Regions from separate parts of the Homo sapiens genome. Here region 1 is linked to region 2. A link means that fine-mapping ties the variant in region 2 to the expression of a gene that starts in the linked region. Tissue or cell type: unexposed skin. Region 2 holds a variant in brackets; the other region holds the start of a gene. All regions are shown on one strand. Distances are between the middles of the regions.

Region 1 (2,627 bases), 20 kb after region 2:
AAACCCCATCTCTACGAAAAATACAAAAATTATCCAGGCGTGGTGGCAGGCGTCTGTAATCCCAGCTACTCGGGAGTCTGAGGCAGGAGAATGGCGTGAACCTGGAAGGTGGAGCTTGCAGTGAGCCGAGATCGCGCCACTGCACTCCAGCCTGGGCGACAGAGCGAGACTCCGTCTCAAAAAAAAAAAAAAAAAAAAAAAAAAGCAAAAATTAGCCAGGTGTGCACACCACGTCCAGCTAATTTTTTTTCAACCATTTAAAAGTGTAAAAACAGCTGGCCAGGCACGGTGGCTCACGCCTGTAATCCCCAACACTTTGGGAGGCCGGGGCAGGTGGATCACCTGAGGTCAGGAGTTCAAGACCAGCCTAGCTAACATGGCGAGACCCTGTGCACTAAAAAGACAAAAATTAGCAGGGCATGGTGGTGGGCGCCTGTAATTCCAGCTACTCGGGAGGCTGAGGCAGGAGAATGGCTTGAACCCGGGAGGCAGAGGCTCGTGCCATTGCACTCCAGCCTGGGCAACAAGAGCAAAACTCCGTCTCAAAAAAAAAAAAAAAAAAAAAAAGTGTAAAAACAGCTGAGCGTGGCGGTAGCTAGGTGTGGTGCGTCTGTAGTCCCAGCTACTTGGGAGGCTGAGGTAGGAAGATTGCTTGAGCCCAGGAGTGCCAAGCCAGCCTGAGCAACATAGTGAGACCTTGTCTCTACCAAAAAAAAAAAAAAAAAAAAAAAAAATTAGCTGGACATGGTGATGCTCGCCTGTGGTCCCAGCTACTTGTGGGGGGGTGGGGAGAGGCTGAGTGGGAGGATCCCTTGAGCTTGGGAGGTTGAGGCTGTAGTGAGCCGCGATCGCGCACCGCTGCGCTCTAGCCTGGGTGACAGAGTGAGACCCCGTCTCAAAATTAATTAATTAATTAAAACAACAAACAACAAAACCCCAGCTGTGTGGGCTCTGGGCTGGGCCGCCTCCCCGGCGGAGGGGGCTCCCTCTCAGGCAGACCGCCAGCCGCTGGGTCCGGGGACTGCCGGATCCGGAGGTGCGGGGACCCCTGCGCACCTGGCGGCTCCCGGGATGCCCCCCTGAGGCAGGCGGGAGGGCAGCACGGAGACGCCCCTCCGGGCAGAGCCCGCCCCAGCCACTCCCCTCTCCAACTCGACCTGCCTCAGCAAGTCCTGAGTGTCGCAAAAGCGCTAGGGTTGCAAGTGGCACCAGAGACGTGCCCTTGTCCCGGGGTCCATTTGAGGGTGAGCGTGTTGGTGCCGAGCTGTTTTTTTGTTTTGTTTTGTTTTGTTTTGTTTTTGAGACCGAATCTCGTTCTGTCGCCCAGGCTGGAATGCAGTGGTGTGATCTTGGCTCACTGCAACCTCCACCTTCCGGGTTCAAGTGAATCTCCTGCCTCAGCCTCCTGAGTAGCTGGGATTACTGGCACCCACCACCACGACCAGCTAATTTTTGTATTTTTAGTAGAGACGGGTTTTCACCATGTTGGCCAGGATGGTCTCAATCTCCTGACCTCAGGCGATCTGCCTTCCTCAGCTTCCCAAAGTGCTGGGATTACAGGTGTGAGCCACCGCACCCGGCCAGTGCTGAGCTGTTTTGACAACTTGGACCCCGGGTCCTCTGTGGGTAGGAAAATCAGCTCCCTCTTTGCTCCTCTGGGGCAGCTGCACCTCGGGCCAGCTTTCTGCCTGTCTGCCTGCCGGCACTGCTGGGTCGCTGTACCCAAACGCACAGCCGGTGCCCCGTGGTAAGTCCTGGCTCCCCACCTTCCCCGCCCGCCCCCGGCCACCTCTCCCTCCAGTTGCCCTGGTCTTAGCAGTCTGACCGACTTGTCTTCTGACTCCGGTTCTGTCCCACCAGCCTATTACCTGCCAGCCTGTCTGTTTCCCTCCAGCTAGAAGGTCTTCAGTTTCCAGAAGAACCAAAGCATCTTTGGACCTACCTAGGGAAGGACCTGCCTGTGACCTTTGCCCTGTCCTGGAGGGTCCAGCTTTGGGCTGAATGGCAGCACCCACGCTGGGCCGTCTGGTGCTGACCCACCTGCTGGTGGCCCTTTTTGGCATGGGCTCCTGGGCTGCTGTGAACGGGATCTGGGTGGAGCTGCCTGTGGTGGTAAAAGACCTTCCAGAGGGTGAGTGGGAGGGAGGTACAGGGAAGCGTGGGGCAGGTATGCCCAGAAAGGTGGCCTGTGGCAGCTCTTTGTCCCTTAGCCACTGTGCTCCTGACATGGCATCATTCCTTCCCTGCAGGTTGGAGCCTCCCCTCATACCTCTCTGTGGTTGTGGCGCTGGGAAACCTGGGTCTGCTGGTGGTGACCCTGTGGAGGCAGCTGGCCCCGGGCAAGGGCGAGCAGGTCCCCATCCAGGTGGTACAGGTGCTGAGTGTAGTGGGCACAGCCCTGCTGGCCCCTCTGTGGCACCACGTGGCCCCAGTGGCAGGGCAGCTCCACTCTGTGGCCTTCCTAACTCTGGCCTTGGTGTTGGCAATGGCCTGTTGTACCTCTAATGTCACTTTCCTGCCCTTCCTGAGCCACCTGCCACCTCCTTTCTTACGGTCTTTCTTCCTGGGTCAGGGTCTCAGTGCCCTACTCCCCTGTGTGCTGGCCCTAGTGCAAGGTGTGGGCCGCC
Region 2 (2,756 bases):
TCAGTCTAATGGAAGAGGTGGACATGTAAAATCAAAGTTATCTGAAGTAAAGTACTTAATATAATGCTCTGCATGCTCAGAGCACTACAGGCACGCGCCACCTTGCCTGACTAATTTTTGTATTTTTTTGTAGAGACCGGGTTTCACCATGTTGCCCAGGCTGGTACAGACTGTAGTTAAGAGTATATATATCCGTAGGCTGGGAGCCGCGGCTCACGCCTGTAACCCCAACACTTTGGGAAGCCAAGGCAGGTGGATCACTTGAGCTCAGGAGTTTGAGACCAGCGTGGGTAACATGGCAAAACTCCATCTCTACTAAAAATACAAAAATTAGCCGGGCATGGTGGTACCCACCTGTAATCCCAGCTACTCAGAAGGCTGAGGCACGAGAATTGCTTGAACTCGGGAGGCAGAGGTTGCAGTGACCCGAGATCATGCCACTGCACTCCAGCCTCGGAGACAGAGTGAGGCTAAAAAAAAAAGTATATATATATTAAATATTATATTTGTTATGTATATATAACAAATTTGTGAACCTGAACAAGAAACTGACAGCAGTAAAAGAAACACAGACCAGGCTGGGCGCAGTGGCTCACGCCTGTAATCCCAGCACTTTTGGATGCCGAGGGGGACAGATCACCTGAGGTCAGGAGTTAAAGATCAGCCTGACCAACATGGAGAAATCCCATCTCTACTAAAAATACAAAATTAGCCGGGCGTGGTGGTGCATGCCTGTAATCCCAGCTACTCGGGAGGCTGAGGCAGGAGAATCACTTGAACCCGGGAGGCAGAGGTTGTGGTGAGCCAAGATCACACCATTGCACTCCAGCCTGGTCAACAAGAGCAAAACTCCAAAAAAAGAAAGAAAGAGGCCAAGTGCGGTGGCTCACACCTATAATCCCAGCACTTTGGGAGGCCGAGGCAGGCGGATCACGAGGTCAGGAGATCAAGACCATCCCGGCTAACACGGTGAAACCCCGTCTATACTAAAAATGCAAAAAAATTAGCCAGGCATGGTGGCGGGTGCCTGTAGTCCCAGCTACTCAGGAGGCTGAGGCAGGAGAATCACTTGAACCCGGAAGCAGAGGTTGCAGTGAGCCGGGATCGTGCCATTGCATTCCAGCCTGGGTGACAAAAGCGAAACTCTGTCTCAAAAATTAAAAAAAAAAAAAAAAAAAAAAAAAGGAAAAGAAAAGAAATGAAAAAGAAAGTGAAGGGGAGAAAAGCATCTGTAAAAGCCCAAGGGTGGTAGGATGAGAGCTCGTTTCCCTGTGCACCTGGGGATGCACACTCCCCTGGAGGACCAGGGAGGCGCCCTCGTCCTCTTAGGGCCACTCTAGGTGAGGAGAAGGAACCGTCTATTGTCCTAGAAAGGCCGATCCTCTCTAGGCTTCCAAATCGATGGTGAGCTGGAAGAGTGGTGATGCGGCTCATCTTCAGAGCGCTTTCTTGTGCTGTCGTTGTCCTCCAGAGAAGAGGTTGGGGGCTGTGCAAGATGGGACAATGACCACCCAGGGTAGGCCCATGTCATAGTATGGCAGTGCCGAGGCCTTAAAAATCTATGGTTTTTTGTTTTTTTTTTTGAGGTGGAGTTTCGCTCTTGTTGCCCAGGCTGGAGTGCAGTGGCG[C/T]GATCTTGGCTCACCGCAACCTCCACTTCCCGGGGGTTCTAGCAATTCTCCTGCCTCAGCCTCCTGAGTAGCTGGGATTACAGGCATGCACCACCATGCCCGGCTAATTTTGTATTTTTAGTAGAGACGGGGTTTCTTCATGTTGGTCAAGCTGTTCTCGAACTCCCGACCTCAGGTGATCTGCCCGCCTCGGCCTCCCAAAGTGCTGGGATTACAGGCGTGAGCCACCACACCCAGCCAAATGCTGAGTTCTTATCATGAGTGATGATGATGAGTTATGGCTATTTCGAGCTGCTAGAGGCCTGCCTTTTTTTTTTTTTTTTTTTTTTTTTTTTATTGTAATGCAGGACGGGAAATGCAACAAACAGCCTCCATGTTCTTGCTGTCTGGGGATGGTATGAGACGTATTCCTTCCTCAGGGCCTTTGCATATCCTATTCTCTCTTCCTAGAATGCTCTTCCTCCAGAGCCCTTATGTCTCTTTCACCTCTTTTATACTCTACCCAAAAGTCTGCCATCCTATCTAATAGTTCAGTGTCCTACCTCCCTCCAGTCACACACTTTATAGCCCCCTTTCTCACTTTATATTTTCTAAACAGTTGTCTTTGTTTTGTTTTGTTTTTGTTTTTGTTGTTTTTGTTTGAGACGGAGTCTCGCTCTGTCACCCGCACGGGAGTGGCTGCTCCTGCATCCTCCACCTCCTGGATTCAAGCGATTCTTCTGCCTCAGCCTCTCAAGTAGCTGGGAATACAGGTATGTGCCACCACATCCAGCTAATTTTTGTATTTTTAGTAGAGACAGAGTTTTGCCATGTTGGCCACGCTGGTTTCGAACTCCTGACCTCAGGTGATCCACCTGCCTCAGCCTCCCAAAGTGCTGGGATTAAGACATAAGCCACCACGCCCGGCCCGTACTACATATTTTATTTACTTTTTAAATTATTGTTTTGTTTTCTCCTCTGATTGTATAATTCACGAGGGCAGGGATTATTGTTAGGTTTTTTTTTTCACTGCTCTGTCCCCAGAGCCTAGACCCACACTATCTAGGTACATACAAATATAGAGAATGAGGGCCTACAGTGGAACACAGGACTGTGAAGTAGGTCCTGGGAAAGATACAAAGAGGTGTG

Evidence for each region. PIP is the estimated chance that this variant, and not a neighbour inherited with it, causes the effect.
Region 1: SLC52A1 starts here. The variant in region 2 is fine-mapped to the expression of SLC52A1 in unexposed skin (GTEx, PIP above 0.99).

What each region holds. Positions count from the first base shown.
Region 1 is chr17:5,033,981-5,036,607 of GRCh38, reverse strand. SLC52A1 (solute carrier family 52 member 1) reads left to right here and starts at 1,182. Exons shown (of 5, transcript NM_017986.4): 1 at 1,182-1,747; 2 at 1,895-2,131; 3 at 2,250-2,627. The coding sequence starts at 2,002. The region is part of intron 3 of LOC105371501 (a long non-coding RNA gene); the gene reads right to left.
Region 2 is chr17:5,054,321-5,057,076 of GRCh38, reverse strand. No RefSeq gene overlaps it. Among named protein-coding and RNA genes, the nearest start is that of SLC52A1, 20 kb to the right of the region's middle. RefSeq lists an enhancer at 1,229-1,523. The variant C/T (reference allele first, on the strand shown) is at 1,629.